Regions from separate parts of the Homo sapiens genome. Here region 2 is linked to region 1. The links come from fine-mapping of genetic effects on gene expression. A gene starts in region 1. The other region holds a variant in brackets. All regions are shown on one strand. Distances are between the middles of the regions. Region 1 holds the start of LINC00327 (long intergenic non-protein coding RNA 327). Region 2 overlaps LINC00327 (long intergenic non-protein coding RNA 327).

The links.
Region 2: its variant is fine-mapped to the expression of LINC00327 in atrial appendage (GTEx, PIP above 0.99).

Annotation. Positions count from the first base shown.
Region 1 is chr13:23,468,123-23,471,045 of GRCh38, forward strand. It overlaps LINC00327 (long intergenic non-protein coding RNA 327), which reads left to right and starts at 1,390. Exons shown (of 3, transcript NR_038995.1): 1 at 1,390-2,069; 2 at 2,392-2,568.
Region 2 is chr13:23,486,822-23,489,744 of GRCh38, forward strand. LINC00327 (long intergenic non-protein coding RNA 327) reads left to right here. Exons shown (of 3, transcript NR_038995.1): 3 at 1-643. Among named protein-coding and RNA genes, the nearest start is that of LINC00327, 19 kb to the left of the region's middle. The variant A/C (reference allele first, on the strand shown) is at 1,857.

The DNA.
Region 1 (2,923 bases):
CTTGTTTACTCTCAAGATTAATGTAGTAAATAAAGAAGACTAAAAACTTCAGAGACTGAAAGCTGCTGAGAATGTGTAAGAGAAACCTGGTTGTCAAACGCAATCCTGATCTTTTATCAGGCATCTGTATCAATGTGGATGATCTAACCGTGGTTAACTTCATGAAGAAGGAAGATATTTGATTTTCATCTGTTTAAAGAAACAATCTGTTTCTTCTAAAAGTATATACTCTAAAACACAAACCACTTGGCTGGGAAATAAAAGATGGTTATGCTTTATCATTTATATAAGCCTGGCCTTTCTCCAAAATGATTTTGATATAGCTTACAACAAAAAACGTGTTAGGCTTAATAAAAGAAGAATGGAAATGGAAACTAAGGATCAACAGAAAAGAGTATCACAAATACGGTAATACTAGCATATGGTAATATTATTTCTGTATTTGAGTGTAAAACGTGGCTGTGAGCTTCCTGGAGGCCAAGGCAAAAATAGAGACAAGAGCAACGTGCATAATATCATTAGCAGACAGAAAGATCATGTGACTTTTTAATTTTTTTCCCGGAAACTGAATCTAAAAAGAATCGCTCTATATAATGACTCATATATATGGTTTTAAGTGAAAAAATGATGAACACTGTCCTCCATGAGAGTTTTGGCACAAATTGAAGGAGGTAAGAACTGATATTGAAGCACAACTCAGTGAAGTTAATCCTGTCAGGCTAGGTTCACACAAGAAAACTTCTGACAAAATCCTAGAATTCCGGCAAATGCAGGCATGGAATGAGAGATTCCTATTCCATCTGCCTCGTTGTGCCTGGGGCCAGGCCTGAGTGTTGAAGACAGCTTGTTCCAATGTAAGATCAAATGAGATTGTTCATAACAGGAGTCTGCAGGAATATGGCACCTCTGATTTGAAATGATGGATGATTTTCATCAGCCGTGTATCTGCTTCCTTGGCAGCACCCCAAGTGCAGACCCCAGGCTGTTTCAGTGTGTCATCTGGCAGGCCCAAACAGAGGATGTCTCAATTGTGCATGTGTAACACAGCTTTAATTCATAATTTCATTTCTGGATGGAATTTTGAGCAGATGGGCATTGCTGTCCTTTTTAATGGTAAAAAATCAATGAAAGACACCGTGGTTTTGAAATTAATGAGCACTTGAAAAATACCAGCTTTGTTTGGCTTTGCGTTTTCTTTTTTCCTCTCCTCCTAAGTTGTTTGCAGCAAAATATTCAATTGAAAACTCAACATGTCCACTGCCTCCCAAAAAAAAAAAAAAATTCTGTGGAAAGTCTCCACTAACAGGAAGAGAGAAGTTCTTCACAGTTTGGTTTTATTTTTCAATGATAGTCATTGCCTCATTTTTAAAGCATTTATAATAAATTAAGCAAGTAACACTTGTGTACCAGTTTCTAATCAGTTTCTAATGTGCCTGGAACTTGCTGGGCTACAAAGAAAAGGATCAACTATTTTTTTTCCTGCACCCAAAGATATTGCAATCTTATCGGAGAAGGGAAACTGAGGCATGTGTTACAGTTAGAGGACTAGGAAGCACTAATCTGTGTCAGACTCCAAAGTGCAAATTCAAAGGAAAGACCATTGTTGGAGGGAGTGATCCGGAAGAATTCCTAGCCCTTACCTGTCTCAGTCATGCTTCTTGCCAAAGAAAAAGAGAAATCTCCAAGTATCTTAATGCTTTCAGCGCTTCTCCAATCTGACAAATATTTATTCAGATTCGAACTGACTGCCCAAGCTTCACTGCAGCTCCTCGTTTCCTGTTAGATCTTTTTAAAAATCTTTGCTTAAAACATTGAAGGCTGAACGATGAGCAAGAAAATCTTGCCTGTGAATAAGACACTGGGAACTGCACAGAATCAACATCAGCTCACAAGCTCATCATCTCACGCACGGATTCCTGAGCACATTCTCGCATTCTTGCTCTTAATCCTCCCTTGGCGACCTTCTACTCAGACATCATCTTTTATGCAGAGAAGCAGGCACGTTTCTCATCATTAATTCTGTTCTCAGCCAGGTGTGTAGCCACAGAGCATACAGACCACAGGATGATGTGAGTACCCCAGGATGTAAATTTGTGCGGAGTAATTACAGCTCAGGCTTCTTACACAGCTTTGGCCACATCAGGACATGAAGCTGTCTTGCAAATTGCGGGTGTGTCTAAGCTCTTAAGCACATGTGAACTTTAACGCACGTGCATTCCCTACTCACATACACAATACAAGCATGCCACACACTCACAATCCAATTGGCTAACTATGGTTATTAGCAGGAAAGAACAATTAATGGTCCTTGTGGTTACAGTTTTGTTTGAATTTTCGCCTCATCAAAAATGTAACAACCAACTAAAGCAGGCTTTCCTCCTTTTTTCCTAGTGAAAGCATATTGACTTTCCTGACTTCTTATGACCACATTTGAGGAAAGGAGTAAGCACTGGAATCACCAACACAGCATGCTTACGGAGGGTGGTCACCAGCTTCATCAGCCTCCCAATTCCACGGAGCCCCTTGAAAATCCAGGAGCGCAGACTGGCAACAGTAGAGATTTAATAGGTAAGACCTTGGGTTCAATGGACAGATCTCCTACAGTTCCTGATATCAGCCCCTATCAGAAATTATATTTTACTTTGTGTATTTCACATATTTCAAATAGAAGGGGTCAAGACTAATAGTGACCAGTCTTCATCCATTTGATAAACCTTTACTAAACACAACTGCAGCTTTGTTCTAGGCAGCATGAATGGAATGATTTACAAACTGTTGCTGCTCTTTGGGCAGTCACTGTTTTATAGGGGAACTCGAGAAGCAGTCAGGAAGGAAGGTCTCGGAGGAGATGGCCCTGAAACTGAATCAGACTTTAAAAGATAAGTTGGTCAACAGGGTTGGAGGGAGGGAGGGAAAAGAAGGT
Region 2 (2,923 bases), 19 kb after region 1:
AAAAGATAAAAGATTATTGGCTTTCATAACAATAAAGTCCTAACAATGATTCACAGTTATTCCATGAATAAGGGTAGGGGAAAAGAGGGAGGAATGTAAGGCATTTTATATGGAGCAAGGGAGGCAAAAGACGTTGACAGAGGCTTATGGAACAACACACACACGCACACAAATAGAAGGAATATATTGCTTAAAATGACAAAAATAGCCAACATAGGCTGGGTGCGGTGGCTCATGCCTGTAATCCCAGCACTTTGGGAGGCTGAGGCGGACGGATCACTTGAAGCCAGGAGTTCAAGACCAGCCTGGCCAACATGGTGAAACCCCGTCTCTACTAAAAATACAAAAATTGACTGGGCGCAGTGGTGTGCATCTGTAGTTCCAACTACTTGGGAGGCTGAGGCAGGAGAATCACTTGAATCCGGGAGGCGGAGGTTGCAGTGAGCCGAGATCACGCCACTGCATCCTAGCCTGGGTGACAGAGTGAGACCGTCTGAAAAAGAAAAAAGCCAACATAGGAATTTTTAAAATAATATATAATTACCAAAAATTGGGGAAAATAGAGACAGGGAAGGCAGTTCTATAAGCGAGATAAATCTTTATCTTTTGTATCAGAAAGTCAATAAATATTGTCTGAATTTGATTGGTTATTTCCATTTTTATGAAATGTCTACAATAGGCAAATCTATAGAACCAGTAAAGAAATTAGGAATTCCTGTGGCTGGGACTGAAGAGTGAAATCACTGCAAGTGGTCAAGAGGGATCTTCTGAAGTGATAGGTGTGTTCTAAAATTGGGCTGTGGGGATGCTTGCACAACTCTGTAACTTTGCTAAAATTCATTTCATTACACATTTAGTGAGTTTTATGATATGTACATTACCCATCAATAAAGCTGTGTTAAAAAAAAGGCTGATTTTTTAGGCTGGGCGCAGTGGCTCACGCCTGCAATCCCAGCACTTTGGGAGGCCAAGGCGGGGGGATCACAAGGTCAGGAGATCAAGACCATCCTGGCTAACATGGTGAAACCCCGTCTCTACTAAAAATACAAAAAATTAGCCGGGTGTGGTGGCGGGCACCTGTAATCCCAGCTACTTGGGAGGCTGAGGCAGGAGAATGGCGTGAACCCGGGAGGCAGAGCTTGCAGTGAGCGGAGATCATGCCATTGCACTCCAGCCTGGGTGACAGAATGAGACTCTGTCTCAAAAAAAAAAAAAGGCTAATTTTTAAAAAGGTCAAAGAAGAGATGTGAAAATATATTATTTAGAGTTCTGTAGGCAACCAACAGGAATAAAAGTAGAAATGTTTTCTGGGATGATCTAGGAGTTGCTAGGGTGAGGAAGTGTGAAATGGAGGCAGCTGTTTATCAGTTATGTTTTTATCAGTTTATCAGTTCTGTTTTTCTATACTATTTCCATTTTGTTTATCAATGCATGTATTACCTCAGTTCATTATTAGAGATTTTTTAAAACTTTAGATTTCTTAATGCAGAAAAAAATGTTTCTTGTTTTTAATCTTTTAGAATTTAAATATGAGTAATGATGGCATGTGAGTAAATGAATAGAATTTATTTTTTCTCCTAAAGACCAAGGCCAAGGGGCAAACTCTCTTACAAACCACCGCTCATAACTTGATGTGGACAAGAGCTCAACTGGGCATCGCCAAAAGTCCATGCCACTCCCAAAATAGAATGGAGGCAAGGAGACTAAGCAACTGATCTTTCTGGGAATGACATTTGGTGCAGCTGTGTTAAGCGGTTGCCATGGACTAATACAGAAAACATAAATAATCTCAGAGAAGCAAGTGCCCGAGAAAAACGAGATGACACAGGAAGTTGCTAATGTTATCAGCTGTCTTC[A/C]TCTGTTTATATAAGAACGCTGCCAAAGTAACCATCTATGTGCCCAGGTTTTAAGCCGCATGACACAACCTCTTTACCCTGAGGTGAGAGTGACATGGTGGCCAATGAGAGGCCATCACTGTGGAAAACACATATTAAGACTTTTTGAGATATGAAGTAATGGGATAGATCATGAGGACTTGAGGCTACAAGCTGACGACCTTGCAGTTGGTTCAAAGAGCTTGGGGACTTTTCAGTGTAATTTTGCTAGGTGACGAATCGGAAGCTTTCACACCTGCATTCCCTTTCTTTTTTTCTTATTTATTTATTTATTTATTTGAGACGGAGTGGTGCCCTGTTGCCCAGGCTGGAGTGCAGTGGCGCAATCTCAGCTCACAGCAACCTCCACCTCCCAAGTTCAAGCAATTCTCCTGCCTCAGCCTCCCAGTAGCTGGGATTACAGGCTCCCGCCACCACGCCTGGCTAATTTATTACTATTATTATTATTATTATTATTATTATTATTATTTTTGGTAGGGACAGGGTTTCCACATGTTGGCCAGACTAGTCTTGAACTCCTGACCTCAGGTGATCCACCCACCTCGGCCTCCCAAAGTGCTGAGATTACAGGCGTAAGCCACTGCGCCCAGCATTCCCTTTCACATAAAATGCTACGTGAATGGTGGTAATAAAACAGTCAGAGCGATTCCATGCAACCCAACAGATAACGTGGTTTGTGCATTTTTTCTATCCATGAGGGAATGAGAAAGGCTATTCCTGCCTTTCCGTCAATTCCATTCAACCAAATATTTCCCATTTTAACGTGAAATCAGACCTCTCATGGGTTGGTCTGTTGTTGGAGTGACCACACTCACTTACTCCACTTGCTCCGAGGTTCCTCTCATTACCTGAACATGCACACGGGGCCCAGCAGGCACTGAGGAAAAGGTTGAGTGGCACTTGTCATCTGCATGCCTCCCAGGTGGGTCCTGCTCAGGGAGGAGTGTCCAATAACCTTGGTGACAGCCACAGCCTGGCAAGATTCATGCCGCAGACAACACGGTGCCCGAATCCCTTCCTTATAATTC